3 separate regions of the Homo sapiens genome follow, and regions 1 and 2 are each linked to region 3. The links come from fine-mapping of genetic effects on gene expression. A gene starts in region 3. Each other region holds a variant in brackets. All regions are shown on one strand. Distances are from middle to middle.

Region 1 (10,580 bases), 65 kb after region 3:
GAAAAGGTATGTAGGTATGTTTATCATGTAACTATACATGTTTCCAACCCCTATTACTTTCGTTTCAGTGAGTTGTCTGTAATTTTTCCAACTTTTTCACCAGTAGTCTTTAAAGAAATTGGTTCCTTATTCTTTGTGATACTTTGAAATTGTCACTCAAAATAACGCATTAAAAAAAAAGTTAAGGTTTCTTTCTTGACTTAGTCTCTTTTCAGTTATAGTGTTTACTTCTTTCTGAAACTGACAGTGGGTGAAACATCTACCCTATAGAAATCATGAAGTTTCTAGTTTCTATCATGAGAAATTTCTGAAGGATCTATAGACTCTTTAATTTACCATTTGTGTTCTGTGTAGTTTTTGCGTACATAAAACTTTGGTTTATTCAAGGTGCATTTATGGAATATTCTTTTAAATAGAAGACAGCCTTTTCCGTCTTGATGATGATCTTTCCACCGAAATGTATTCTAGAAATTTAAAAAACTCTCATGGTCATGTAACAACATCATATGTAGCATATTTAATACATTATTTGCCAACAAGAAAAGTTTGGAGATGACTGCTATTTTCAAAATCTTCACAAAAAGTGAGGTTAGCTTTTAAAAATCTTTATACAATGGCGTATATATAATTTAATTAGATTTGTGATTTTATTTTATTTTTTATAATTTCAACTTTTATTTCAGATTCAGAGGGTATGCATGCAGGTTTGTTACATAGGTGTATTGCATGATGCTGAGGTTTGGGATATGAATGACCTCATCACTTAGACAGTGGGCATAGTACTCAACAGTTCGCTTTTCAGCCCTTGCCCTGTTCCCTGCCTCCCCTCTCTATTAGTCCCCAGTATCTGTTGTTGCTATCTTTATGTCCTTGAGTACCCAGTGTTTAGCCTCCACTTATAAGTAAGAACATGCAGTATTTGGTTTTTGTTAATTTGTTAATTCACTTAGAATAATGGCCTCCAGCTGCATCCATGTTGCTGAAAGGACATGATTTTATTCTTTTCTATGGCTGCGTAGTATTCCATGGTGTACATCTACTGTGTTTTCTTTATCTGATCCACCAGGTATCCATTGATGGGCACCTAGGTTGATTCCATGTCTTTGCTATTGTGAATGGTGCCGTGATGAACATGCAAGTGCATGTATATTTTTGTTGAATGATTTATTTTCTTTTGGATATATACCCAGTGATGGAATTGCTGGGTTGAATGGTAGTTTTAAGTTCTTTGAGAAATTTCCAAACTGCTTTCCACTGTGGCTGAACTAATTTACATTCCCACCAAGAATGTATAAGCGTTCCCCTTTGTCTGCAACCTCTCTAGCATCTGTTGTTTTTTGACTTTTTAGTAATAGCCTTTCTGAGTGGTATAAGATTATATCTCATTGTGGTTTTGATTTGCATTTCTGTGGTGATTGGTGATGTTGAGCAATTCTTCATGTGTTTGTTGGCTGCTTCTATGTCTTCTTTTGAGAAGTATCTTTTCATGTCTTTTGCCCAATTTTTTTTTTTTTTTGAAATGGAGTCTTGCTATGTTGCCCAGGATGGCGTACAGTGGCACTATCTCTGCTCACTGCAACCTCTGCCTCCTGGGTTCAAGTGATTCTCCTGCCTCAGCCTCCCAAGTAGCTGGGACTACAGGCACGTGCCACCATGCCTGGCTAATTTTTTGTATTTTTAGTAGAGATGGGGTTTTCACCGTGTTAGCCAGGATGGTCTTGATCTCCTCACCTCGTGATCCACCCGCCTTGGCCTCCAAAGTGCTGAGATTACAGGCGTGAGCCAATGTGCCCAGTCCTTTTGCCCAGTTCTTAATGGGGTTGTTTTTTGCTTGTTGAATTGTTTAAGTTCCTTATAGATTCTAGATATTGGACAAAGTTAAGATAAAGACCTTTGTGTAATATCCAGAATCTATAAAGATACCTAGTTAGCAAATATTTTCTCCTATTCTGTGGGTTGTCTGTGGATTCTTCTGTTTTACAGAAGCTAAAGAGCTTAATTAATCTAAAGAGATTAATTAGGTCCCACTTACCAATTTTTGTTTTTGTTGCAATTGCTTTTGAGAACTTAGTCATAAATTCTTTCTCAGGGCCGATGTCCAGAACAGTGTTTTCTCATTTTTTTTTCTAACTAGGATTTTTATAGTTTGAGGTCTTACATTTAAACTTTTAATCCATCTTGAGTTGATTTTTGTATATAGTGAAAGATAGGGTTCCAGTTTCATTCTTCTACATGTAGCTAGCCAGCTATACTAGCACCGTTTATTGAATAAGGAGTCTCTAACTCATTGCTTATTTTTGTCAACTTTGTCAAAGATCAGATGGCTGTAGGTGCATGGCTGTATTTCTGGATTCTCTATTCTATTCCATTGGTCTTTGTGTCTGTTTTTGTACCAGGACCATGCTGTTTTGGTTACTGTAGCCTTAAAGTAGAGTTTGAAATTGGGTAATGTGATACCTCCAGCTTTATTCTTTTTGCTTGGTATTGCTTTGGCTATTTGTGCCCTTTTTTGGTTCCATATGAATTTAAGAAATTTTTTTTCTAATTCTGTAAAAAATGGTGTCGGTAGTTTGATAGGAATAGCATTGAAGCATAAAAATGACACTTCAGGGACTCAGGGAAAGGATGGGAAGGGGGTGAGGGATAAAAGATCACAAATTGGGTGCAGTGTATACTGCTTGGGTGATGAGTGCACCAGAATCTCACAAATCACCACTAAAGAACTTTCTCATGTAACCAAACACTACCTGTTCCCCAATAACTTATGAAAATCAAAAACAAAAAACTCTGACATTTAACAGGGGAAAAAATAAAAAAAGGAATAGTGTTGAATCTATAGATTGCTTTGGGCAGTATGGGTATTTTTTAAAATGATATTGATTTTTGCAATCCGTGAGCAGCGTTTTCCGTTTGTTTGTGTCATCTATGATTTTTTTTCAGTAGTATTTTGTAGTTCTCCTTGTAGAGATCTTTCACCTCCTTGGTAAGATGTATTCCCAGGTTTAAAATTTTTTTTTGGTGGCTGTTATAAATGGAGTTGTGTTCTTGATTTGGCTGTCAGCTTGAACATTGTTGATGTATAGAAATGCTGCTGATTTTATACATTGATTTTGTAACCTGAAATTTTACTGAAGTTGTTTATCAGCTTCAGGAGCCTTTTTGTGGAGTCTGCAGGGTTTTCTTGGTATAGAATCATATTGTCAGAGAAGAGAGATTGTTTGACTTCTTCTTTTCCTATTTGGATGCCTTTTATTTCTTTCTCTTGCCTGATTGTTCTGGCAAGGACTTTCAGTACTATGTTGAATAGGAGTGGTAAGAGTGGGTATCCTTGTCTTCTTCCATTTCTCTAGGAGAATGCTTCCAGCTTTTGCCTGTTCAGTATGATGTTGGCTGTGGGTTGGTCATAGATGATTCTTATTAAGATACATTCCTTCAATGCCTAGTTTGTTGAGGGTTTTGTTTTGTTTGTTTTGTTTTTATCATGAAGGGATGTTGGGTTTTATGAAGGCTTTTCTCACATCTGTTGAGATGATCATATAGTTTTGGTTTTTAATTTTCTTTACGTGGTGAATCCCAATTATTCATTTGCATATATGGAACCAACCTTGTTTCTCAACAATGAAGCCTACTTGATCATGATGCATTAACTTTTTGATGTGTTGCTGGATTTAATTTGCTAATATTTTGTTGAGAATTTTTGTATCTATGTTCGTCAGCACTATTGGCCTGTACTTTTCTTTCTTCATTGTGTCTTTGCCAGATTTTTGTATTAGGGTGATGCTGGCTTTGTAGAACAAGTTAGGGAGGAGTCTCTCCTCCTTGATTTTTGGGAATGGTTTCAGTAGAATTGGTACTGGTTTTTCTTTGTATGTCTGGTAGAATTCGGCTGTGAATTCATGTGGTCCAGGACTTTTGGTTGGTAGGTTTTTTTTTTTTTTATTATGGATTCAGTTTTGGAACTTGATATTGGTCTATTTCAATTTCTTTCTGATTCAGTCTTGAGAGATTGTGTGATTTATCCATTTCCTCTAGATTTTCTCATTTGCGTGCATTGAGGTGTTCGTAATAGTCTCAGAGGATCTTGTGTATTTTTGTAGAATCTATTGTAATGTCAACTTTGTTGTTTCAGATTGTGCTTATTTGGACCTTCGCTCTTTTTTTTATCTAGCTAGCAGTCTGTCAATTTTGTTTATCCTTTCAAAGAACCAACTTTTGGTTTCATTGATCCTTTGTATGGATTTTTGGGTCTCAATTTCATTCAGTTCCACTCTGATTTTAATTATTTTTTTTCTTCTAATAGCTTTGGGGTTAGTTTGTTCTGTTTTTTCTTATTCCTCGAAGTGTGATATTGGATCATTAATTTGAGATCTTTCTTTCTGAGCTAGATGTTTAGCATTATAAACTTCTTAACACTTTTTGCTGCATTTTAATATGTTCTGTGTCTGTTTTTATTTATTTCAAAGAATTTTTTGATTTCTGCCATAATTTTATTGTTTACTTAAAAGTTATCCAAGAGCAAGTTTGTTTGTTTGTTTGTTTGATTTTGAGACAGAGTCTCACTCTATCGCCAGGCTGGAGTGCAGTGGCACCATCTAGGCTCACCGCAACCTCCGCCTCCCAGGTTCAAGCAATTCTCCTGCCTCAGTCTCCTGAGTAGCTGGGACTATAGGCACACACCACTATGTCTGGCTAATTTTTTTTTTTTTTTTTTTTTTTGTAGTTTAGTAGAGATGGGGTTTCACCACATTTCCAGGCTGGTCTCGAACTCTTGAGCTCAGGCAATCTGCCTGCCTTGGCCTCCCAAAATGCTAGGATTACAGGCGTGAACCACTGTGCCCAGCCAAGAGCAAGTTAATTTCTATGTAATTGTGTGGTTTTGGAAGATCTTCTTGGTATTGATTTCTATTTTTATTCTACTGTGGTCTGAGAGTATGGTTGGTATTAATTCAGTTTATTTATTTATTTATTTATTTATTTATTTATTTATTTATATTTCTGGAGACAGGGTCTTGCTCTGTACCCAGACTGGAGTGCAGTGGCATGATCTTGGCTCACTGCAACCTCCCCCTCCTGGTTCAAGCAATTCTCCTGCCTCAGCCTCCTGAGTACCTGGGATTACAGGCGCGCACCCCTGTGGCCAGCTAATTTTTTTGTATTTTTAGTAGAGATGGGGTTTCATCGTGTTGGCCAATTTGGTCTCAAACTCCTGACCTTCAAGTGATCTGCCCATCTCGGCCTCACAAGTGAATCAGTTTTTTAAATTTATTGAGATGTGCTTTTTGGCCGAGCATGTG[G/T]TCTGTCTTGGAGTATGTTATATGTGCTGTTGAGAAGAATATATATTCTGTGGTTGATGAGTGGAGTGTTCTTTAGATGTGTATTAGGTCCAATTGGTCAAATGTTGAATTTACACCCAGAATTTGTTTTTTAATTTTCTGCCTCAGTGATCTGTCTAATGCTGTCAATGGGATTTGACATCTCCCAACATTATTGCTATCTCTATAGATCTCTAAGAGCTTGTTTTATGAAACTGGATGCTTCAATGTTGGGTGTGTGTATATTTAGGATAGTTAAGTCTTCTCATTGAATTGAACCCTTTATCATTATGTAATTACCTTCTTTGTCCTTTTGTACTGTTGTTGGTTTTTTTATATATAATTTTTTCTTGAATAGAAATGGGGTCTCACTGTGTTGCTGTGAACCCCAAATATCTGAGAGAGATCTCAGTCAATTTAGGAAGTTTATTTTGCCAACATTAAGGGCATGTGCCTGTGACACAGCCTCAGGAGGTCCTGGCAACATATGCCCAAAGTGGTTGGGGCACAACTTGGTTTTATACGTTTTATACATGAGACATCAATCAACATATATAAGATATACATTGGTTCTGTCTGGAAAAGCGGGACAACTCAAAGTGGGGAGAGTATGTCCAGGTCATAGGTAGGTAGGAGACAAATGGTTGCCTTTTTTTTTTTTTTTGAGTTTCTGATTAGCCTTTCCAAAGGAGGCACTCAGATATGCACTTATCCCAGTGAGCAGAGGGATGACTTTGAGTTTGAGTTCTGTCTGTCCTTCGTCCACAGGGAAATTCCTTGTGAGGGAGGTACGTAACTTTTTCTAATCTTAGTAGCTATTTTTTAGGAATAGAATAGGAGGCAGGGTTGCGCTAAGCAGTTCCCAGCTTGACTTTTCCCTTTGGCTTAGTGATTGTGGGGGTCCCAAGATTTATTTTCCTTTCACATTGCCCTGGCTGGTCTTGAACTCCTGAGCTCAAGCGATCCTCCCCCCTTGTAAGAGTTAAAGAAAGAGGAAAGAAACACAAAAGATGGGTTGGCAGTTAAAGACAGGTTTACTTTAGATAAAACCTGAGAAGGGTTTCTGGCTGATTTCGATCAGGAGCACTTTCTCTTACAGGCTAAGTACATGAGTATATATTGGTTTTAGGGTGAGGGGGCTTATCACAAGCTTGGAGTGTTTATGTGTGGGGGAGAAGTTTATGGTGAGGTTGGAATGTCTCTGGGTGAAGGGGGGATTATCTTGGGGCTGACGTCTTTCTAGAAGGAAGGGAGTTATCTCGGGGCTGGCATCTTCCCAGCCAGAGCAGGGCAGCTAGCATGTCTCTGGTCGCAGAGGAGTTTGGCATGTTCCTGGTCGGAGATGCTTTTTTTGTTTATGATCATGCTGATCTTAGCCATTTAGGCTGATGCGCTTTGGATTTAGGAAGTTTTTGATTAAGGTGAATTGGAAAATAACAGTGCTTGTGCAAGATGGTGATACTCCTGCTCTGTCATACTTCGGCCTCTCAAAGCTCTGGGCTTATAGGCGTGAGCCACTGTGCCTGGCTCTGTTGTCTGATTTAAAGTCTGTTTTATCTGATATAAGAATATTGACCCCTGGTTGGGCGTGGTGGCTCACGCCTGTAATCCCAGCACTTTGGGAGGCCGAGGTGGGTGGATCACGAGGTCAAGAGATCAAGACCATCCTGGCCAACATGGTGAAACCCCGTCTCTATCTGCTAAAAATACAAAAATCAGCTGGGCGTGGTAGTGCATGCCTGTAGTCCCAGCTACTCGGGAGGCTGAGGCAGGAGAATTGCTTGAACCCAGGAGGCAGAGGTTGCAGTAAGCCGAGATCGCACCATTGCACTCCAGCCTGGCGACACGGCGAGACTCAGTCTCAAAAATAAAATAAAATAAAATAAAAAACTAGTGACCCCTGACCTTTTTTGTTTTCCATTTGGTTGATAAATCTTTTTTCAACCCTTTACTTTGAGCCTATGGGTGTTGTTACATGTGAGACGTGTCTCTTGAAGGCAGCAGATGGATGGGTCTTTTTTCTTTCTTTTTTTTTTTTTAATCCAAATTGCAGCTGTGTGCCTTTTAGGCAGGATGTTTCGTAAAAGGCGAAAGATTTGTATGATCTGAAGAGACCCTTTACATTCAAGGTTAATATTGATATGTGAGGTTTTGATCCTATTATTAAGTTGGTAGATGGTTGCTTTGCAGTTTCTATTGTATGATTGTATTATGGGGTCTTTGGGCTATGTACTTCAGTGTGTTTTTGTGGTATCAGTGTTGTTCTTTCATTTCCATGTTTAAAAGTCCCTTAAGGATCTCTGCTAAGACTGGTCTAGTGGTAACAAATTGTCTTATCGCTTGCTTGTCTGTAAAATATTTTATTTCTCCTTCGTTTGTGAAGCTTAGTTTGGTGGAATATGAAATTCTTGGTTGTAGTGTCCTCTCTTTAAGAATGCTGAAAATAGACCCCCAATCTCTCTTGCCTTGTAAGGTTTCTGCTGAGAAGTCCACTGTTCCTTTTGTATGTGATCTGACGTTTTTCTCTAGCTGCCTGTAAGATTTTTTCTTTAGTGTTAACCTTCAACAGTCTGGTGACTGTATGCCATGGTGATATTCACGTTCACAGAGAGTTCTCTGTATTGCTTCTATCTGGATGTCTTCCTCTCTGGCAAGATTAGGGAAATTTTCTTAAATTATGTCCTCAAATATGTTTTCCAGGTCATTTACTTTTTCTCCTTCTCTCTCAGGAATACCAATAATTCATAGATTTGGTTGCTTTACATTATCAAATATTTCTCAAAGCCTTTTTCATTAAAAATTTTTTATTTTTATTTTTATCTGACTGGGTTAGTTTGAAAGACTGATCTTCAAGCTCCAAAATTCTTCCTTCTGCTTGGCCTAGTCTATTAATAAAACTTGCAGTTATATTTTGAAATTCCTTAAGTGAGTTTTTCAATTCCAGAAGCTCTGATTGATTCCTTTTTAAGATGTTTATCTTAAGATGCCTTCATTTCCTGAATTGCTTTAGAAGTTTCTTTGTGTTTATTTTCAACCTTGTCTGGATCTTGTTGAGCTTCCTTGCAATCCTTGCTTTGAATTCTTTATCTGTCATTTCTGAGTTTCCATTTGGGTCAGGAACCATTGCGGGAACACGACTGTGATCCTTCAGTGGTGTCACTATATTTAGATTTTTCACAAATCCAAAATTCTTGGGGTAGTTCCTTTTCATCTGGAGATGTTCACACTTCTAATTTTTGTAATTATTTTCATGCAGGTGGGATTTTTTTCTTTTTCTTTCTTTCACTATAATATTATTGTTTTTCCCTTTCACATTTATGATTTTAAATATCAACTCAGAAACCTGTTGAAAGAGACCCTTTTTCTCTGATTGTAGGCATTATTTATCATGCAGTGGTTATGAAGAAAGAGATGTAATAGAGAGTATAGTCAATATTAGTTTTAAGGCGTGGCTCCCATATATGTCATATCTACTGATAATTTTTCATAAATCTTAGCCTGAATCAATTAGTGGCATAATTTGGATTTTATCTTTTTCAGCAGTTATCAGAAATATTATCCATGTTTGATAGTTTGCATTTTTCTTTTTAAATGTTTACTTATTGGGCCCCAGAATGCTTGTTGGAGGAGGGATTGGAATGAAATGTATCCTTCATTGAATAGGATTTTTGTTTTAGCTTAAAAATGAATTCTAAGATATGAATCACTTGTTTTCTTGCTGACGTAGAGGCAAGACCTTTTTATTTTTGATAGAGACAGGGTCTCACTATGTTGCCCAGGCTGGTCTCAAACACGTGGCCTCAAGCAATCCTCTGGCCACAGCTTCCTAAATTGCTGGGATTCCAGGCATGAGCTACCCTGTCAGTTTAGCGAAGACAATTTAAATGATTACCAAGAAGTTAGCAAAGTAAATATGTTTATATAACAACATCCAACATTCAGTGAAGAGGGAAAAGCTTACCGTGCTACGAAACCCTTTTATGGTAGTTCCTTTGAAATTTGTGTTGATTTTTTTAAGTATTAGGGTTATCTGTTAAATGTTTTATTTTGTACCCTTAGGTGCAAATGTCAATTGTCAAGCCTTGGACAAAGCTACACCCTTGTTCATTGCTGCTCAAGAGGGACACACAAAATGTGTGGAGCTTTTGCTCTCCAGTGGGGCAGATCCTGATCTTTACTGTAATGAGGACAGTTGGCAGTTACCTATTCATGCAGCTGCACAAATGGGCCATACAAAGTAAGTGTTAAAAACAGAAAATAAACATGGTCTCTTAATCAAAAGCTAATAAAGAATAAATCTGGGCTAGACCCTTCACCTCTAGGCAAAGTCTTTGATATTCTCTTCCCTACCAATCTGCTGGGTGAACAGATCTACCCCTAATCTGTCCTTCATGCTGTCTTTTGCTCCTACTATTCCTGCACTTTCATATTGTGAGGCAGAATTGCTACAGACTGGGTAGGCTCAGGGACTTTCTCGGGGTGTTGACTCTTCCCATTGATTTCTCTAGTTATGGCTGTATCCGCCGCCTCCTCCTCCCTAGTTTTATCCCAGGCATCTTTAAGCATCAATCTGATGAGGCCATCCATGTTACCTCTCTGACCCCAGAAAGCTTTTGAGTTTGTGATGCCTGTTGGAGTGTGTGCTAAGTAGTCCTCCCTGTCTTAAACCCTTTGACTGAACTTTTCTTGATCTAACCTCAAATTGGAGAGAGAGTAAATGGGGGTTCCAGGAATCTTAGAAGCTAGTAACTTGGTTATACCTGTGAGAATATGGCTACCTATCATAAATTGGCAGTCAATGATTTTTAGAAATATATGTGAGAATATGGCTACCTATCATAAATTGGCAGTCAATAATTTTTAGAAATACATGTTTAGAATCTTTAGAGCCATAATTCTATAATAGCACTTTTTATAGCTGCTATTAGTATTATTTAATTTAAAAAGTAATAGTAAAATATTCATTACTTAATTTAGTTTGTTTACATAGTAGGAAAACAGATTCTGCAATTTGGTCATTATGCCACTAGGTGACACAGTACTTTACTATTTCATTAATGATATTTGTAAGCATGTTTATGTCTTGTGGGAGAGTATAATTTTTCCCACCTACTTAAAAAAATTAAACACATTTATTAAAGTTAAGAGACATTAGACTATTTTAACAAAATACTTAGATTTAAAAATTTGATATTTTCCCCAATTCTTGATCATTTATTTAAACATAAGTGTTAGATATTGTACTCTGAACTTTAAATGGTACCAAAA
Region 2 (10,580 bases), 26 kb after region 3:
ACAGTTGGACTTGCTGCCAGGGAAGGCAATGTTAAAGTCTTAAGGAAACTGCTCAAAAAGGGCCGAAGTGTCGATGTTGCTGATAACAGGGGATGGATGCCAATTCATGAAGCAGCTTATCACAACTCTGTAGAATGTTTGCAAATGTTAATTAATGCAGGTAAAGTAAATTCAAGGTATGGAGGCTTTGCCTACAAGCTGGATTAATAAAACATAAAAAAGTATAATACATAACTTATTAACAGTAGTATTTGTTTCCCTTTCTATAGTCATAAAATAACTGCCTGAATTTATTTATTAAGGATAGTAAGATTGCCTGCCTTGGATTCAATTAGTATGATACTCTAGTTGGACATCTTATACGGAAGTGCCTCTGTCTGGCCTCTTTTTATTGACTGAGCTAGGTGATATGGGAGAAGTAGTCTGCTGTTTGAATTTAAGCATTTGGTAGTTACTGGTCATGTTTATTCTTTCTTCCTTTACCAAACAGAAAGAGCAATTGTACTGAAATTGAGGATGTGTTTTGATTGAATTAGTCTTTTTCTTTTTAAACACTTTTTAATACTTTTGGGAATTTTTACAACTACTTAGCATGAAACAAGATGCCTGCCTTCCTGATGCTTTTTCTTGTCAGAGGAAACAGATGACAAATATCTAAATAATTAAACAAGATAATTTAAAAAGGTAAAAGTGTTATGAAGAAAATAAAACAAAGTAGAGATAATAAAACAGATGGGATAGACAAAAATGGTGTGCTACTGCACATCTCTTTACATCTCTGCATTCAGTGACTTCATGCTTGGGATCGGCCATGGTAGGAGTATTTACACCACAGAAACAAGCCAGTGCTACAAACCAGTGCTATAAACTGGGCTTTCTTCCCTCTGGACAGCTAGTTATTAAATGTTAACCAGCACACTACTGAGTGAAGGTCATTGACTAAAGGCGAGATTCTGACATTTAGTATAGAGGGGGTAGGAAGAAAACAAATGGTGACTGAGCATTGCTTTGTGATAGTCATTGTGCCACATGCTCAATTTATCTTCTTTATCTAATATTTATAAAAATGGTGTTAGAGGCAGTATTATCCTCATTTTATTGGTGAAAAGACCAAGGCTCAGAGAAGTTGACTTGTAAAAGGTTACATAATAAACTAGGGTATTTGATTTGAACCCATTTCTCTGACTCTAAAGCCCTTTTTTTTCCTCTCATACCAAGCTTCTAACATTTAATTGAATGAATTTATAGCATTCAGTTAAAATGAGGTTGACTATAATACTCTGCATTGTAACACTCAGAACCAATTTCATTTCATTGATCGTGGAAATTCAGACCCTCTTTCCTGCATACTTGTCATCACCAGGTATAGGTCCTTAAAATATAAACTTCTGGGTCCATAGCCCATCAGAACTACTAATTTGTTACCTGCTGGACGGGAAAGGAAATAATCTTTACATTGTTTTTGGTAGTGGTAGGTGTTTTTTTTGTTGTTGTTGTTTTGTTTTTTTCTTTTTTTTGTCTTAACAGGTAAGAGATGGTAAGGCTAAACTTCCTAAATCATAATGCAGGAAATTTGTCATGATTGTTTTTAAAATCACATGTTCAAGTGTCTAGTGTCTATTATAGTTGAGTGTTTGAAGATAGTGGAAAAATAGATGTTATTCCTCTAATTTCAAACGCTTAAGATATGTTTTCAGAATCTGTTTGAAGTTAACTATAAAGCTTGAGTTCCCAAACTATTTTTAGTAACAAAGACATGAGTTTGAATATCCTTTTCTAGGCAAAAAGCTCATTTCCAATATACTGTTACATCTCTTCTTCATATCGGAATAGTGTAGTTTATGTTACAGATTTTTTTCATCTGCTGAGTAAACTTGGGCATGCTTTTGACTAAAGGCATTTGAACTGGCTGTTAAATTCATCTCTACAGTTGTCCTGCCATATCCACAGGGAATTGGTCCCAAAATGTCCACGGACACCAAAATTCATGGATGCTCCTCAAGTTCGGCAGTCTGCCCTGAAGATAGGAAAACGTCCTATACACACATACAAAAGGTCAGCCGTCTGTATCTGTGGGTTCCACATCCTACAAATGCTATTATCTTCCATCCCAGTTGGTTGAATCTGCAGGTGCAAAACCCGTGGATACAGAAGCCCGACTGTATTTCCTTTTTTTCTGAGACAGAGTCTTGCTCTGTTGCCCAGGTGGGAGTGCAGTGGTGCGACCTCAGCTCACCACCACCTCCACCTCCCAGATTCAAGCGGTTCTCCTGCCTCAGTCTCCCAAGTAGCTGGGACTACAGGTGCACACCACCAATGCCTGGCTAACTGTCTCACTTTGTTGCCGAGGCTGGTCTCAAACCCTTGGCTCAAGTGATCCTCCTGCCTTGGCTTCCCAAAGTGCTGGGATTACAGGTGTGATGCATCACACCTGCTGTCTTTTATTATATAATTTTCCTACCTCCCTGAGGTTTATCTAATATTAATACACTGTCAGAGATTCCTAAAAGATAATTAGTGCACCCAAATAAGAAGGTATGTAGGCCTACACAAATAAAATGGAAATATCTAAAATGATTAGAAGAGTTTTGCTTCACTGTCTCTTCAATTTAGATTTGGAATCCATTCTGAGTACCATACATGGTCTTCTGACTCAAGTTGGAGAAGAGCATTCAAGTGTGGTGTAGATTACATAGAAGTTTAATATGCATACATATTTTTGTATTTCTTATGTATCTCATTTTAGTTTTCTGTTTAACATATTAGCACAGATAACAAATTTGCTTGTCTTCTCTCCTGTATTGGAGGTTGGGTGTAATGGGTGTTGAGATTTTATGAAGCTTGTCATCCTGGAGGGCAGTAATGATCTTCACTGACAATTAATGCCATTCAATAATAAGTCATTTGCTGACTAAAAGTCCCTTAAAAATCTTATAATTATTAAGCATATAGCTAAAAAATACTTTTATTTGGCTAATAAATGATCTAGCTCATAGTATTTTTTATTAGTTCATGTTAAATAAGAAAATACGCACTAATACTGGGCACAGTAACAGATGCAGAAGTTCCTTAGACAAATAAATCATTGTAGCACAGCGATTAAGAGTTACGGTCAGATGGACCTGAATTCTAGTGACTCTACCATTTTATTGGTGTGACTTTGGACAGGTTTTTTAACCTCTAAGTGGTTTAGTTTTTTCATCTGTTAGATAGAAATATTCCATTGTTCCAGCTCAGGCCAGAAACTCTGGGCCATCATTAATTCCTTTCTTTTTCTCATATTTCTCATCTAGTCAGTCAGCAAATTTGTGTATGTGTATGTCTATATTTGTGTGTATGTATACACACACACACACACACACACAGTTAGATCACTTCTCACTACCATTAATACCTTGTCTGCGTTGCTATAATAGCATCTTAACAGATCTTCTCTATCTGCCATTGCTCCTTCTGCATCCTATGACAGACCACCCTCAATATATTAGAGGGATCATTTTAAAATGCAACAGACCAAGTCACTCTTCTGCTCTCTTGAGTGAAAACACTTTTGTGTAGTATTTCATGGTAGAGATGTAATGTAATTTATGTAACCATTCTTCTATTGATAGATATTTTGTTTGTTTCCTAAAGTTTTGCTGTTATAACTAGTGATTCAGTGAACATCCTTATGTATATATCTTTGTCTACATGGTTAACCATTTCTGTAGGATGGAGTTTTAGAAGTGCAATTACTGTTTGATAAGTTAGAGTTTCCTGGAGAAATAGAACCAATAGAATATATATAGATAGACAAGAGGGGATTTACTATGGGAATTGGCTAATGTAATTATGGGAGCTGAGAAGTCCCATCATATGCTCTCTGTAAGATGGAGAACCAGGAAAGCTGGTGGTGTAACTCACCCTAAGTCTGAAGGCCTGAGAACCAGGGGAAGTGATAGTGTAACTCTCAGTCTGAGGCCAAAGGACTGAGAACTGGGGTGTGGGAGGCCACTGGTATGAGTCCTGGAGTTTGAAGGCCTGAGGATCAGGATCTCCAGTATCCAAGGGCAGGAGAAGATGCATGTCCTAGTTCAAGAGAGAATGAATTCTCCTTCTGCCTTTTTTTTTTCATTTGCAGGATTAATAGAGTGAAAACAGAGCCCCCATACAACGGGAGGGGACCCAAAGGGGGTTGCTGCTCCCTGCTCGAATGCCTGAGTTTATATCCTGATCATTGTCCCTCCCTCTGTGCTCTCAGGCGATATATGATTTGACTATTTCTTTACCTCATGCTGTAGCCTAATTTGTATTTTAGTGAGCCCTCTTTACTACCTGATTGGTCAGGTGTGAGCTGAGTTACAAGCCCGGTGTTTAAAGGTAGGTGCGGTCACCTTTCCCAGCTAGGCTTAGGAATTCTTAGTCTGCCTAGGAAATCCAGCTAGTCCTGTCTCTCAGTCCCCCCTCTCAACAGTAAAACCCAAGTGCTGTTGGGGAGGTTGGCCGACGACTGCTCTTAAGTGCTTCCTGCTGTATTGGGGCATAGTAGGGGTCGTGCAGTTTAGATTTCATCAGGAGGAGTGCCTTCAATGTCATTAACATCGGAGCATGGGCTAGCAGGCTGTTCCAGGGGTCCACGGTAGATCTTAGTCATGGACTGCATCTGGGGTTCTATTTGAAGAACAATTTGTAATTTTACAGCTTTGATTCTGGAAGAGACAAACTTAACAAGGAGGTTAAAGATACAGGGATTGAAATGTAGGCCTGAAGTGCCAGGGATTATTTCTTCGGCACACTTCACAGATCCTGACTATCTGCTTGATAGTTTTGAAAAGGCCTGGTCTAGTAAATAATGATTTGGCCATCTGATGGGTGCTATCAATGCCTAAGTGAAAGGTCTAGTGAAGGGTTTTAAGTAATTTCCATTGGTTAGCTGCAGGCAAAAGTATTTTTCCTTCTTCAGTGGCTAGCCATCCTGAGGGGAAGAAGCTATGTACTCTTGAGGTTCCCCATTCTATTTCTTCTGCTGAGTACTGGGCCTTGGTTTCCTGGAGGGGATTACCCCATACTAGGGGTCCTTCTGTAAGCATTTCTAATGGAGGGTCCTACCTTGCAACTCTTTTGGCTTCAATATC[T/C]GCTTGGCGGTTCCCTTCTACTTCTTTTCTTTTCTTTCTGGTGACCCTGGCAGTGTAAAACTGCCACCTCTTTAGGTTTCTGTAGAGCCAAAAATAATCTCCTAATGTCTTCCTGATGTTTGATAGGTATTCCCTCGGAAGTTAGGAATTCCCTTTCTCTCCATATTGTTGCATGGGCATGGAGAGTTAGGTAAGCATACTTAGAGTCTTTATATATATTTACCCTTTTTCCTTCTCCTAATTCTAGTGTATAACGGCCCCTGCTTTTCCTAGGATGTCTCTCCCTAACAAAGGAGTGGGGCTTTCAGGCATAATTAGAAAGACATGTGAAAAGAGTAAAGTTCGCCAGTCACAACTTAGTGGCTGGGAGAAGTATATAGTGACTGCCTGTCCTAGGATCCCCTCAGATAGTGACAGATCTGGAGGACAGTTGTCCAGGACAGGAGAGTAAGACTGAGACAGCTGCGCCAGTGTCCAGGAGACAGTTAACCTCCTGGCCCTCAATGATCAAGCATACCCGGGGCTCTGTGAGGGTGATGGCGTGGGCTGGTGCTTGCCCCGGACACCCTCAGTCCTGCTGCTGTATCATCTGGTTAGTGGCTTCTGACTCAGAGGACCTTCGTCCCCTGGGGCAGTGGGCCTTCCAATGATTCCCTTGACATAAGGGGCATGGACGAGGGGGAGGCTTATTTCTATTCGGACAATCTTTTTTAAAGTGTCCTTGTAAACCATACTGGAAGCAATCCCTGTTAGGCATTCGATTTGCCCAGCCTTTCCCTGTTCCAGAGCCTTCAAAGTCCATTTGCCTGAAGACCATGACTAAAGTGGTGGCCTTTTTCTTATCCCGTTTATCCCGTTCTGCCTGCTCCTCCTGATCTTTATTATAAAAAACTGAGGTTGCCAAGTTCAGTAGGGTTTCTAAGTTTTGCTCCGGGCCTAAGGCGGACTTTTGAAGTTTTGTTCTAATGTCTGCAGCTGACTGAGTGATAAACTTATCCTTTAAGATTAGTTGGCCCTCAATAGAGTCATGCGACAGAGAGGTATGCTTTCTCAAAGCCTCCCTTAGTGTCTCCAGAAAGGCGGTAGGATTTTTCTTCCTTTTCCTGTGTTATAGTGGACATCATTGAATAATTCATAGTCTTCCTCCTAGTTTTCCTTAGCCTTCTTGCACGCAAGTTAGCAAATGTCTGCGGCACCAATCTCCATGTTCTGATTTTGCGTCCCAGTGAGGGTCTACACTGGGAACTGCCTCCTGGCCTGTGGAGAATTGTTCTCTTTCTTCTGTTGTCATCCTATCATTGACCTGACTGAGATACCAGAGATTGCCAAACTCTCTGGCTGCAGTTATGGTGGCACTTCTCTCTTTTGTGGTTAGCGTCTGATCTAGCAGCAACATTATATCTGTCTATGTCCGATAAAAGCATTGTTCTAACCCTTGTAAAACATCAATATAGCCATCAGGGTTATCTGATAATTTACCTAGGTCTATTTTAATTTGCTTCAAGTCTGACAGGGAAAAAGGTACATACACTCTGGGCCGAATTCTCCAGAATATATCTTAGGGGCGTTTTTGCCTTGTGGGGAACATGTCCCATCTGAAAAAAGAACATAGGGATGCCAGCACCTCTAGTCATTTTCCAATGAGCATTATCCCAGAGGACTAGAGCGTCCTCTGTGGTCCTAGTGCTTATTCCTTTCCAGGGTGTACAACTACCCATGGACCTCTGCTTATCGGATTAGTTACACTCACCAATGTAGCAGTCCTGCACCCCTTTTCCCACCTTTCTTGACCACAAAGAAAGGGGTCCGGGCTGCTGGATTCTAGTGGTCCTTTACCAGCATGCCCAATATTGCCTTTGCGCTCAAGGGTGAGTTCTAGAGCTGGGCTGGGTTCCTGAGTATTTTATAACAACCCAGCTGCCCCATCAAGATGCGTTCCCATAAACAACAGTTCTTATGCAAATTCTTTTCAGAGAGGGTGTAGGTAACCTTTTGAGTTAGGATTGAGGTAGAGTTTTTGCCCACTAGGGCCTTTGTCCTTTTCCCTTGTAGGAATACGCCCTAATTATCAATCTTAAACTTTTTGTTGCCCCGGATTAAGTCCTTGCCGGTATGAAATTTGAGAGATGGATCCTGTTTATCCCATGTGCCTTTTTCCGTGGGTTACTGGGTTAAGGATTTTTGATAGGAAGGCTATGTGTTGTCAGTGGTCTCAGTGTTTTCAGGCTACGCCCTTGTTTACACTGACAACAAGGTAGTATTGGAGTGTTATAGGGTCACAGAGAAGACCTTCAGTTATCAATTATAGGTTTTAAATTTACCCTGGCTTTTAAAGGAATAGGGTGCACTGTTTTTTCTTTACTACTTCTATCTCTCTTTTTCTCTCTCTCCCTCTCTTTTCTCTCTCTCTCTGTCTCTTCTCTCCTTGAGTTACTTAATTCGCTTTCATCCTGATCTATTATGTTGTCATAGACCCAGTTCCAGTTGTTAAAGTACTGGGTCATGAGTTTCAAGGCCCTGGCCAAGGAGCCAAGGCTTGGAGATTGTATTGCAGAGGGATAAGCTGGGTAAAAATCAGGGGAGGAGAGCATCTTACATGATGAGAGAGCAATCCTCCTAGCCATTTACAAACTTGGGGCCCTGGCAAGGGTGGTGGGGAATGGGTCCCACATAACTGCCCATGTTGAGAGCTGTATATCTAAACTGGGACACCAGGGACAAGATTCCCTGGGTTCATAGCCTAGGTACCTAAGGACACAGCATAGAACTTCCTTAGATCCCTTTGGAGATACAACTTGCTCTAATACTTGGGAGAGGAAATGAAGTCTGAACCATTAGTACCTAGGAGGCAGGGATCGGAGGAAGTAGATTCAGAAGTAAGGAGAATTTTGGGCTACACTTTCAAGAAAGTCATGGTCGGGACCCAGGAGGTATGGGTCAGAAGGAAAGGTAGGGGTGCATGCACGGGCGACTGTTGAGTAGAGACTTCGGCTGCGCCATGATCTCAACCAGCTAACGCCGGGAGTTCGGGACGACAGCTTTCTGCCTCTAGTCGGCCCTCGGCCTCCCCAGGAAAATTGAAAGCAGAAGCTGGTTCCAGGCAGACCAACGCTCCCAACCCAGAAGGGTTGGACGTTGTTAGAAAGCCCTTTCCCAGATAGCCTCACACCTGAGTCTTAAGTCTGGCAGCCACACTAATTATTTTTAACTGGCTGACAGGTGCCCGGTATTTTCCTCCAATTCTAAGGAAGGATAGGACAGAATAGCAAGTGAAAGTGGTCCAATATTACTCACCGCTTTTGAGGTCCCTTTGTGGTCACCAAAATGTTACTGGGGGGTCCTTGTTCTTAGAGCTCCTAAGATGGTGGTAGGCTGCTTCCAAGATGGTGGCAAGCCTCTTGTTCTCTGACCTCGGGTTCTTGACCTCACGGATTCCAAGGAATGGAATCTTGGGTCATGCGGTGAGTGTTACAGCTCTGTTCAGCTCGATTAGGATGAACCCCAGGCACTTAGCCTGTGCAGGAACAATGGTGAGCCTCTAGCCCGACTGGGAGTGGCAATGGGCGCCGCCTCGCTGGATCAGAAGTGCAGTGGACACCCTGCCAGATCGGAGGGGTAGAAGTCAACAGCGGGTCTGCGACGACGGTGATCAGCAGTGGTGGACGGTGAGTGAAAGCTCAGTTTGAACTGGAACAAACACGGACCAGAGAGTGTGCAGTTGCAAGATTTAATAGAGTGAAAACAGAGCTCCCATACAATGGGAGGGGACCCAAAGGGGGTTCCCTGCCTTTTTTTTCTTTTAGGTCCTTGAAGGATTACATGATGCCTGCCCACATTGGTGAGGGCAAGTCTTGTTTATTCAGTCTGCTGATTCAAATGGTAATGTCTTCCTGAAACATCTTCATGGATATACCCAGAAATGTTTTAGCAGCTATCTGGGCATCCCTTAACCCAGTCAAGTTGACATGTAAAATTAACCATCACCATGCCAAGTTAAAATATTTATAGATACTGCTAAATTGTATGCTATGTTAATCAGGATTCTTTCAGTACTGAGTGAAAGAAACCTAGTTCAAACTAGCTTAAGCAAAGAAAGGGAATATAGTAGCTCAAGTAAATGTAAATCTGAGTGATGGGTCTCTTCAGAGACTGCTGGATTCTACTATTAGAATGATGTCGTTAGACAGGCAGGATTTCCCTTTGGAAGTTCTAGACTTACCTTATTTTTATTTTTTTAATTAAAAAAATTTTTTTAAAGAGATGGGGTCTTACTCTGTTGCTCAAGCTGGAGTACAGTGGTGTGATCATGGCTCATTGCAGCCTCCAACTCTTGGGCTCAAGTGATCCTCCCATCTCAGTCTCTGGAATAACTGGGACCGCAGACATATGCCATCACATCAGGCTAATTTTTTTATTTTCTATATTTTGTAGAGGTGGGGGGGGGGTCTTACTATTTTGTCCAGGTTGGTCTCAAAACTCCTGGCCTCAAGTGATACTCCTTCCTTGGCCTCCCAAAGTGCTGGGATTACAGGCATGAGCCACTGCATTAGGCCTTGCCTTATCTTTAAAGAGCTCTTTATGTATTCTGGATATTAATCCTTCGGTGTTATATGTGTTTCGGGTATTTTCTCGTCACTTTTCTTAACAGTGTCTACTTTCTTTGTAATGCCTTTCAACCTCTTCCTCTTCACTGACTTCTTCCATGCATCTTGTGTGCATTATGAAGTCTCTGCTGAGGGTTGTCTGAGAAGTTTGCACATAATACAATTCCTTGCATTGTGGAAATTATTTTATATATAACCTTTTCTTATAATACCTAAATAAAACATAGTAAGATGATATAAATTGTGTAAATGGTGTGGCGATATAATCTTGACATTTATTACACTTGTGATTGGCACATAGTAAATTTGTCATCAAATTCTGGCTCAGCTGTTGAGAAATATTCTGGTCTTAATACTTAACCTATCTCCTCTACTGAAAACCTTGTGGTTTGACTTTCCCTGTTAGAGTTTGCAGAAAACAAAAAGAACGGTCTATCACCCATTACTACCACTTTTATAAGAAGTAATAGACAAGTTTATTATTCATAAGTAAAAAGACACTTTGTGTCAGTAAACATAGGGTGTGGTTCCATTGGCAGTGTTTGGGCCAACTCTTGTCATTGCTACACAGGCGTCAGTGGCTGGCATTGGTTCAGCTGAGGTGGCTCTAATTCTCCAAGTATTCCCAGGAAATAACTCACAAGTTGTGAAAGACCTGAAGTGCTCATTGTGTTTGTCCATTAAGAATGTCTTTAATACCCACACCATTTAAAGTTTCAATAAGTTGAGAAGGAGAAGCCACTTTGCCTTCCTTTGAGGGTAAGGAGAGATTAAAGCATTAAAAACAGTGAATAGGATGAGCCATTTCTTTTTCAAGAAGCACCCCTGTAGAGAAGGGAAGAGAGTGAGAAGGTGGTGGTTG
Region 3 (10,390 bases):
GAGGCTATAAAATACACTTGTTGGTAGAACCTGTCAATGTATATGACATGCTATAAACCATGGAGTTGGTCAAATAGTAGTGCTTGGGAAAATCTGAGTAAAATATATTCTACATCAACAACAGAAGTAGACAGAAAATTAGACTGATTTGTGGTTTAATTTGGTGAAATCTCTGAACTCTATAAAGTAATGAATAATTAAACATAACGACAGAGGTGATACTTCAGAAGGAAAATATTAACACAAAAACAAAACTGAGTGCTAAACATCAATAAGCAAAGAATATCATAATTATTAACTCTAGTTAATGTACACATCAAAAATACACAAATTTTTTGGCCAGGTGAGGTGGCTCATGCCTATAATCCCAGCGCTTTAAGAGGCTGAGACCAGAGGATAGTTTTGACCAGGAGTTTGAAACCAGCATGAGCAACATAGGGAAACTATCTCTACCAAAACACACAAACAACCCCCATTTTACAGTTTTGGTGCTTAATACTTTTTCTAAGCAAATCTGAAAGCAAGATTGTAAATAATTATATATTGTTTTGATATATCTGAATGGGAAGACAATTTAAAGCAGACAATTTTAAAGCTTAAAAAATTCAGATCTTCTAATCCAGTCTCTTCCAATTTCAGTTAGTAAACAGACAAAGGACCTTATCCTATTTCATACAGCTGCATATTAGTTAGATACAAATGTCCAACCCGCGGCCAGGCACGGTGGCTCATGCCTGTAATCCCAGCACTTTGGGAGGCCGAGGTGGGCGGATCACTTGAGTTCAGGAGTTTGAGACCAGCCTGGCCAAAATGGTGAAACCTCATCTCTACTAAAAATACAAAAAAAAATTAGCCAGGTGTGGTAGCGCACGCTTACAATCCCAGCTACTGGGGAGGCTGGGCAACAAGAATCGCTTGAACCCGGGAGGCAGAAGTTGCAGTAAGCTGAGATGGCGCCATTGTACTCTAGCCTGGGTGACAGAGCGAGACTCTGTCACAAACACAAATGTCCAACCAACTGGCCCATTAAAAAAAATGGCAGCGCCAGGTGAGGAGAGTAGTGGTTTCTTTTCTTTTCTTTTTTTTTTTTTTTTGAGACAGACTCCTCTGTCGCCCAGGATGGAGTGCAGTGGCATGATCTCGGATCACTGCAACTTCTGCCTCCAAGGTTCAAGCGATTCTCCTGCCTCAGCCTCCCAAGTAGCTGGAACTACAGACATGTGCCACCATGCCCGGCTAATTTTTTTATTTTTAGTAGAGACAAGGTTTCGCCATGTTGCCTAGGCTAGTCTCAAACTCCTGGGCTCAAGTAATCCACCCAGCTCGGCCTCCCAAAATGTTGGGATTATAGGCGTCAGCCACTGTGCCCAGCCAGTAATTTCAGTTAAATGCAAAGGGAAGCCTTAAGGTTATAGAAGTATTAAAAAAAATCAAAAGACCAATGATAATGACTATTGTGGCTTATTTTTACATAAAGGACATAGGCCTTGTGACAATTCACAGAACACTCTAGATTTTTCTCAAAGTAGCACAGACTTAAAGAAAAAAAAGCCAGATGCAATGGTGACCACCTGTAGTCCTCGCTGTTCAGGAGGCTGAGGCAGAAGGATGGCTTGAGCCCAGGAGTTTGAGGCTGTAGTGAGCATAATCATGCCTATAAATACCTACTGCACTCCAGCTTCTAAAAAAAGAATTTTTTTTTTTTTTTTTTTTTTTGAGACAGAGTCTCACTCTGTCACCCAGGCTGGAGTGCAGTGGTGCAATCTTGGCTCAGTGCAACCTCCACCTCCCGGGTTTAAGCGATTCTCCTGCCTCGGCCTCCCAAGTAGCTGGGAGCACTGGTGTGCACCACCACGCCCAGCTAATTTTTGTGTTTTTAGTAGAGATGGGGTTTCACCACGTTGGTCAGGCTTGTCTTGAATTCCTGACCTCATAATCCGCCTGCCTCTGCCTCCCAAAGTGCTGGGATTACAGATGTGAGCCGCCGCACATGGCCAAAGCATTTTTTTTTTGAAATAAAATTGTTAGATACGTGAAAAGTTGGTGTAGCAAATGCTAAGACTGAAAGAAAATGGAATGACAATTTGGTAGTGACCTCTAAAAATGCTAGTTTTAGTCGCTCGCTTATAGTAAGTTTTCAGGGCTGCATATCAGCAAGTTTTTTTAAATTAAAAAAAACACAGGTGCCAAGAGTAAAAAATTTTAATGACATAATTCTTCAAACATCTGCCATATTCACTCCAAGTGTGCTCTTTGGATACAACAACAGGTATTAAAGTATTCTCTTCCAAGCCTGCTAAAGTTATATCTGATTCATAACAAAATTTTACATAGGTATTTCAATGTATCAATATTTTGTGGCATTAATACAAAGAGAAATTTGACGTCCCAGAAAAATATTTACCTAGATAAATTCAGAACATTTGGTTCACACATGTAATCCCAGTATTCTGGGAGGCTCAGGCACGAGGATTGCTTGAGCCCAGGAGTTCGAGACCAGCCTAGGCAACATAGTGAGACCCTGCCTCTAGAAAAAAAAAAAAAAATTAGCCAGGAGTGGTGGGATTTCCCTATAGTCCCAGCTACTGGGAAGCTGAGGAGATCTCTTGAGCCCAGGAGGTCGAGGCTGCAGCCAGTGGTGACCGTACCACTGCACTTCAGAATGGGCAACAGACTGAGACCCTGTCTCAAAAAACAAACAAAAACAGAAAAACCCAAACCAAACCAAACCAAACCAAAAAACCCCTAACACTTGCAAATAGAAAGCTATGTGGTAATAACATCCATTAACTTGACACATCTTGTTTTGACATCATAGTGTCACTTACTGTTTCAATGAAATGGTAATGAAAGAATATAATAAAGTATTGCAAGTTGAATGCTTGAAGGTAATTGGAATAAAAAGTTTAAAAAAATTTTGCTTTTTCCGGGACTTCAATTTGAAGTAAATGAGTTAATTACTACATGGTAAGTGTCATAAGAGTACAATATTTATTAGCCTGCAGTAGGTACACGTGGACAGGAAGACTTTTCAGCGGTCCACTCCCCCAAGAGGGAATTTTCATTTCCGCGAGGTTACAAATGTTCTTCACTACAGGAAAACTCAACATAGAAGCTCATGTTCTGGGGACTCAAATAACAGTCGTAATACATGAAAACTGTAAAGGATATTCTGCATAAAGGGTCGTTAACATCTCACAGGCCAAATAGCCCTCTCAGAAACAACTAGGAAAGGAAAAAGTTCCCTTGGAGCTGTGCGTTTGCGTATGTCCGTGTGTGTATACAACTGAGGGAGAACGAATACGAGAGAGGGAACTCGAGTCTGAAGTACTGTGGTGTGGGCAGGGTGACATGTAATACTGAAGGAAAGAAGTCTGCTGGTGAAGTAAGAGCCACAGTTAATTTTCCGAAAGGAAGATGAGTAAGTGCACCTGACGTTATTCTACGAAAGCTGCTTCTGCAGGGTGGGAATGTTGGGAAGCAAGGTCTAGTGCGACAGAATTGAAAAGGTGGAGAGCAGGTGATTGCTGGATCCCTAATGCTCAGCAAGGGGGACGCATCCACATAACGTGAGAACGAACGAATGAATGAACGCTGCATAAAAGCAGCTTTGGCTTGGGGAAGGTAAGAGTCTGCAGAGAAGGTCTTGGGGAGAAAAAGCAAAGAAAACCGAGGGAAGAGGCCGAACCCTTAGTGTCAGGAGGAGGGGTGGCTGCGGGGTTAGTGAGGGCACTGACCAGAGAGAACTCGGTGCCGGGCCAGTTGACTCGGAAAGGGATGTCATCGCTGAGTTGAGGAAGGGCTCGGCCGCCGCCGGACGCCTCCAGGAGGCCGCAGAGGACCAGTAACACCGGCCCGCCCGGGACCAGACTCCGTACGCCGCCGCCTCCTTCCTCCATCCTCCGCCGCCGCTTTCTCCAGCCACCGCCACAACCTCCTCTGCTCCAGGAGGAGAGGAGGAGGAGGAGGAGGTGGAGGAGGAGGCGGCGGGACTATAAAGCGCCCGGGTATCACCGGCCCAACCGCCGCCACGTCTCCTTCCGGAGAGCCCGGCAACGCCGCCTCCGCCCCCTTGAGCCTCCTGTCACCGTTTCCGGGGCAGACGACATATCAACATCCGGGGGTCGCGGAGCCGTCCGCCTACGGGGGCCGGGACGTCGCCTGCGCGTCTCTCGTTTTCGGACGGCTGCAGCATCGCGGTGGGGATCGAAAGCGGGGGCTTCTGGGACGCAGCTCTGGAGACGCGGCCTCGGACCAGCCATTTCGGTGTAGAAGTGGCAGCACGGCAGGTCGGTGAGTCTCGGAGGCGGCAGCCGCTTCCTGAAGCCATTCCCGCTGCTCTCCAGTGGGCAGGCAGAGGTTTGACCCACACGGAGTGATAGCGGGAAGAAGACAGTGTGAACCGTGCGGGTGCGGGTCCTTAGATGAGAAAATTCGAAGTAGCGATGAGATGTGAGAAATGGCGGTGTTCCTGACTGACCTGCCTTCTTGCAGCTTTTCTTCTTTTTCTCCGCATTTGGCATTTGTACACTTCATTTTTCCCGCTTGAGGCTTATCTCCATCTCTTCTGCTGTGGACCGTGGCCATCTCGTTACTTAACAGCTTCTGACTAACGCAGGGCAGTTTGTTCAGCGACTGCAACTCTGTGTTAGGGGAAACCTGGGGTGAGGTAGCCCGCCATCTCCCCGTAGGTGAATACCGCAAGCCTCCGAATTTGGCGTGGTGGGCGACTCTCGTGGAATGGGCAGCTAGACATCACAACCCTACATTTTTACCCTCCATCTCTAGATTGAAGTGTTGGGGTGTTGTTTTATCAAGGAAGCTGGTAAGGTTCCTTATGTGAGGTTTAGCGCCAGATGAATGTGTGTGTTTATGAACTAAGTCACGTCTGACTGCATCCCCAAATTAGACAAAAAGTTTTGTTTTTCCCTCCCCCTCTTTAGAAAAAATGCCATTGTCTGTTTTGATCTCCAATATAATGGACATAGAGTGTTGGCTTTAGAGAAATTACCATTCCCTAAAGCTCGACAGTCTTGCTAGATCTGTTAAAGACTGGTCGCCCCCACTTCCTCAGATTTGAACCAAATCAAAAAGCAGGAAGGACAGTCCCATATTCTATCTTAAAAATTTTTTTTTAACATCAGGAATCCATAGTATCAAAGAAGATAACTTTCTTCAGAATTGTTATTCGCTAATTATATTCAGCACTTCTTATTAATGCTTAATGTGATCCAGACTCCTGGGATTTTTGTTGTTGTTGTTTGTTTTGAGACAAAGTCTCGCTCTGTCACCCAGGCTGGAGTGCAGAGGCATAATCTTGGCTCACTGCAACCTCCGCCTCTGGAGTTCAAGGGATTCTCCTTTTTCTCAGCCTTCCGAGTAGTTGGGATTACAGGCGCGCGCCGCTACACCCTAATTTTTGTATTTTTAGTAGAGGCAGGGTTTCACCACGTTGGCCAGGCTGGTCTCGAACTCCTGACCTCGGGTGATCCGCCCTCCTCGGCCTTCCAAAGTGCTGGGATTACAGGCCTGAGCCACTGTGCCTGGCCCCCCTGGGCTTGGTAAAATGCCAAATAAATGGGTTTCTGTCTTTGGTCACACAGTCTAGGCAGGGAGATTGTACAAACAAATAATTGCAAACTATTATAGTAGTAATAGTCAATTTTTTTTTTTTTTAGCATTTATTCTGTGCTAAGCACTAGTCTTAAGTCATGAAGGAAAAGAGATGTATTTGACGGAATAAAAATGAAAACTGTCTGTGAGGTCCTGTTTTAGCATTTAGGGCTATAGTGATTGAATCTGTGTTCAATAGAGCTGATGTTCAAGTAAGAGGGGAACTTAAATAAGTAAAATAATTTCTAGTATTGGTAAGTGCTGCAAAGAAACTAAGGTTATGTGAAAGACAATACCTGTAGGATGTGTTGCTTTTAGTACGTAAGTCAGAGGAGACTTCTGTGAGGAAGTGACATTTGAATTGTGACTTGAATGATGAAAAGAAGGGAGCCAGACAAATTTCTAGGCAGAGGCCCTGAGGCAGGAATGAGCTTGATGTGTTGGAGTGATAGAAAGAAGGCCAGTGTGGCTGGAGTGTAAGAGGAAAGTGGTAGAAGAAGTTTGAGAAGCAGAAAGAGGCCAGGGAGACAGCTCTGTAGGCAGGAGAGTGGACAGGACCCGATGTACATTTGTGAAGATCATTGTGGCTGCTGTGTGGAAAATTGATTGTAGGGGGTGTTGTGGGTTGAATTGTGTTCCCCAAAAAGACATGTTTAAGTCCTATCCCCTAGAACCTGTGAGTGTGAACTACTTGGGATAGGGTCTTTGCAAATATAATTCAAGTAAGGATGAGGTCATACTGAATCAAAGGGGGCCCTAATCTGGTGACTGGTATCTTTATAAGAAGAGGGAAATTTGGATACACATGGACACACAGGGAGAATGCCATGCCAGGAAGGAGGAGGCAGCAAGATTGCAGTATGTGTCTATAAGACAAGGAATGCTAAAGATTGCCAGTAATCACCACAAGCTAGGAAGAGGCAAGGAAGAATCCTTCTTTAGAGCTTTCAGAGAGAGAGAATAGCCCTGCTGACATCTTGATTTCTGACCTCTAGTTTCTAGAATTGTGAGACAATCAATTTATGCTGTCTAAGCTGCTCAGTTTGTGGTCATTTGTTACAGCAGCCTCAGGAAGGTAATAGAGGATGAAAACCAAAAAGTAGTTGAGACAAGTCTCAACCAGTTTAGAAGTTTATTTTGCCAAGGTTAAGGACGTGTCACAGACAGCCTCAGGAGGTCCTGACAGCATGTGCCCAAAGTGGTCGGGCTACACTTGGGTTTTACACATTTTAAGGAGCCACAGGACATCAATCAGTACAAGTCTTTTATGCTTTATTTATAGGTTGATTCTTAAACATTGAAAACTTATCAACTATTTACCATATTGTAATTATACAATCATCATTCGCTATAAAACTATTAAGTATGATTGCATCTGCAGAGAAAAAATGTAATTCTACCTCTGCCAATTAAGGTATCCTATTAGCTTCCTAATAATGGCACCATGTTTGCTAAAATAAACTCATTTTGCTCCTGAAGCTGTATTTCCAGCTCTCACACATGTAATTTAGACTAGTTGCTTTACAAGTCAGTTGCATACCTGTTTACTGAGATTTTTTTGTATCATGCCTGGGTTAGGTCTACTGCTTTATGTATTCCATGTCCTCATTTGTCATAGATTTTTTTCCCACCTTGTAGGGGTATAACTAATTTCAAGCAATTTTTTTCAGGAAGGATTAAACAGGTAATTTAATTTCCACAGACTTCATATGTCTGAAAATGCCTTTACCTTGCCTGCTCATTTAATGATAGCTTGGGAATAGACTTAGTCCACAATCATTTTGTTTTCTTCAAAACTCTGAAGACATTCTCTTGCTTTTTGTGTCTAGTGTATCTGATGACAAGTCTAATGCCAGTCTCTTTCTTTTGCAGGTATCATACTTTTTTCTCTGGAAGATTTTATTAGACTGTTTTCTTTATCATTGGTTCTGTGATATTTTATCAGTGTTTCTAGGTGGTGAATCTTTTTTCATTCATCCTTCTTGGCACTCTATGAATCCTATTTTTCACTTCTGGGAAATTTTCTTCAATTATTTCTTTAATTATGTTCTTGACATTTTCTCTGTTCTATTCAGAATTTAGATAGGTTCTTCCAAATACATTTAGATAGATTCTTCCAAATACAGAGGAAAAATATAAAAAGAAAAAATACATAATACGAAGGATCAATCCAAGAGGTCCATTTCCTTGATTTTCAGTTCTTTTCACTTTCTTTTTTCAGTGGTTTTTTCCCCACAGTTTCTAGTCATCTAGTTATTTTTAATGGATGCATTGTTCTCATGACATGAATTTCTTTGAGGATAACACTTATAACTTTTAAATATTTATGTCCCATTCCCGGAAATAGCTCTGCTTCTTTCAGGTCAGTTGTTTATTTTCATCCTTTCTGTCTGTTGTGCTTTTACTTCAAAAAAAAAAATTCTTGGCGGGGCATAGTGGCTCACACCGGTAATTCCAGCACTTTGAGAGATCACCTGAGGTCTGGAAGGTCAAGACCAGCCTGGCCAACATGGTGAAACCCTGTCTCTCCGAAAATAAAAAAATTAGCCGGAAGTCTTGGCAGGCTTCTGTAATCCCAGCTACTCAAGAGGCTGGGGCAGGAGAATCACTTAAACCTGGGAGGCGGAGGTTGCAGTGAGCCGAGATTGCGCCATTGCACTCCAGCCTGGATGACAAAAGTGAAACTTCATCTAAAAAAAAAAAAATTATTGAGCTCTTTTGTAAGTGAGCAGGGTACTAGCTGTTGGGTCTAACTTTAGGGTCCTTGAGTGAAGTGCAAGAAACGAGTTGCCTCTTTCCTCCTCTCCTTCCACCCTGTACCCAAATAAGGAATGCTTTGTTATGGAACATGAAGATGCTCAAAGGCTTCCAGGGTAGACTGTTAAATTAAAAAGAGCAATAACAACAAAATAGATGTGGTTTTAGCCAGAAACAAATACTGTTGCTGCCAGGCGTTTTGTGTGTAAAGGGCTGTGGTAAAAAGTTTGGCTTGCTGTTTCATATAAATATTATAATAATTCTGATTTTAGTCCTACGTCCTTCCTCTGCTTGTTTCTAAGATTGGTACCTCTCCAGGCTCTGCTGGCAAGAATGTCTTCTACATTGCTATAGCCTTCTCATGTATGCATGTGTGTGTGTTCTGGACTGCAGTTTTCTCTGCACTGGCTTAATCCTCAGCATAATCCTACCTGCTTTCTCTTCCAGAATGAATGAGTGCATTTCAGTGCGATTTTGTTAGGAAGCGGAGGAAAATGTATGTGCTTAGTTTGCCTTGCATAGAGTGAGTAATCCATTGTTTTTTTGTTTGTTTGTTTGTTTTTGAGACAGGGTCTCGCTTTGTCACCCGGGCTAGAGTGCAGTTGCATGATCACTGCTCACTGCCATCCCAACCTCTGGGGCTCAAGCGATCCTCCCATCACCTCAGCCTCCTGAGTAGCTGGGACTACAGGTGTGCACCAGCCTGCCTAGCTAATTTTTTTATTTTTTGAATTCTTGGTTTCCCAGAGTGTTGGGATTACAGATGTGAGCCATGGCACCCAGCCAGTACTTGTTGAATAAATCAATGCTGTTGAAAAAATTGGGCAAGGCATACTGTTGTTTAAAAAGAAAATTATGGCTGTAGGAGATAAGTAATTAGGTGAATCTTTTAAATCCTGTTTTAAAAAGTCCTATTTTATTTTGTCCTAATTAAAAAAGAATCTCCGCCGGGCGTGGTGGCTCACGCCTGTAATCCCAGCACTTTGGGAGGCTGAGGCAGGCGGATCACCTGAGGTTGGGAATTCAAGACCAGCCTGACCAACCTGGAGAAACCCTGTCTCTCCTGAAAATAGAAAATTAGACAGGCGTGGTGGCTCATGCCTGTAATCTCAGCTACTCTGGAGGCTGAAGCAGGAGAATCACTTGAACCTGGGAGGCAGACATTGTGGTGAGCCAAGATGGCGCCATTGTACTCCAGACTGGGCAACAAGAGTGAAACTCTGTCTCAAAAGAAAAAAAAAATGGAAAGAATCTCAAAGGGGTTAAGCCCTACCAATGGAGGTACAAAATGAGATAACTACCATCTCTCACTTTTTTTTTTTTTTTTGGAGACAGAGTCTCACTTTGTTGCCTAGACTAGAGTGCAATGGCATGGTTTTGGCTCATTGTAGCCTCAACCTCCTGGGCTAAAGTGATCCTCCCACCTCAGCCTTCTCAGTAGCTGGAACTACAGGTGTGCACCACCACGCCTGGCTAATTTTTTTTGTATTTTTTGTAAGAGATAGGGTTTTGCCATGTTGCCCAGGCTGGTCTTGAACTCCTGGGCTCAAGTGATTTGCCCCCTCAAGCCTCCCAAAGTGCTGGGATTACAGGTGTGAGCCACTTGCCCGGCTTCCTTTTTTGTTCTTTTTAAAATTGTAGGCCTTAATTTCATTTTGTTCCTGTTCAGTGCTTAGCACAGTTCCTGGCATGTTGTAAATGTTCAATAAATGATACTACATTTGTTTTACTTAAGCAATTTTCATCATCGTAGAAAATAAGGATTAAATGAGTTAATATACATAAAGCACTTGGAATAGAATCTAGCATATAGTTAGTGCTACATAAGTGTTAACCATTATTCTCTGACACATGAACACCTTTTTGTTTTTTCTATGAAGCTTTCTCTGATTCTGCTACTTTGAATTGGTAATTTGCCTTTCTGTATTCTGGTTGTATTTTATTTATTTGTTATTAGTTTTAGAGACAGAGTATTGCTGTGTTGTTCAGGCTGAAGTGTAGGGGCCTTATGATAGCTCAC

Which allele goes with the higher level. Positions count from the first base shown, and alleles are read on the strand shown. Sizes are in standard deviations (SD) of each study's normalised expression. Not every link is listed here.
For the expression in lymphoblastoid cells of the gene that starts at base 4,157 in region 3, allele T in region 2 goes with a lower level than allele C (moderate effect, 0.44 SD a copy in GEUVADIS).

Evidence for each region. PIP is the estimated chance that this variant, and not a neighbour inherited with it, causes the effect.
Region 1: its variant is the best candidate, but not a certain one, in a credible set for the expression of ASB3 in whole blood (TOPMed, PIP 0.69).
Region 2: its variant is the best candidate, but not a certain one, in a credible set for the expression of ASB3 in lymphoblastoid cells (GEUVADIS, PIP 0.65).

The regions. Positions count from the first base shown.
Region 1 is chr2:53,715,535-53,726,114 of GRCh38, reverse strand. It overlaps ASB3 (ankyrin repeat and SOCS box containing 3), which reads left to right. Exons shown (of 10, transcript NM_016115.5): 6 at 9,372-9,549. GPR75-ASB3 (GPR75-ASB3 readthrough) reads left to right here. Exons shown (of 10, transcript NM_001164165.2): 6 at 9,372-9,549. Among named protein-coding and RNA genes, the nearest start is that of CHAC2, 47 kb to the left of the region's middle. The variant G/T (reference allele first, on the strand shown) is at 5,295.
Region 2 is chr2:53,754,957-53,765,536 of GRCh38, reverse strand. It overlaps ASB3 (ankyrin repeat and SOCS box containing 3), which reads left to right. Exons shown (of 10, transcript NM_016115.5): 2 at 1-160. It overlaps GPR75-ASB3 (GPR75-ASB3 readthrough), which reads left to right. Exons shown (of 10, transcript NM_001164165.2): 2 at 1-160. Among named protein-coding and RNA genes, the nearest start is that of CHAC2, 7.6 kb to the left of the region's middle. The variant T/C (reference allele first, on the strand shown) is at 5,115.
Region 3 is chr2:53,780,720-53,791,109 of GRCh38, reverse strand. ASB3 (ankyrin repeat and SOCS box containing 3) reads left to right here and starts at 4,157. Exons shown (of 10, transcript NM_016115.5): 1 at 4,157-4,289. All of the region lies in intron 1 of GPR75-ASB3 (GPR75-ASB3 readthrough), which reads left to right. It overlaps ERLEC1 (endoplasmic reticulum lectin 1), which reads right to left and starts at 4,066. Exons shown (of 14, transcript NM_015701.5): 1 at 3,738-4,066. The coding sequence starts at 3,899. RefSeq lists enhancers at 4,074-4,493, 4,009-4,667.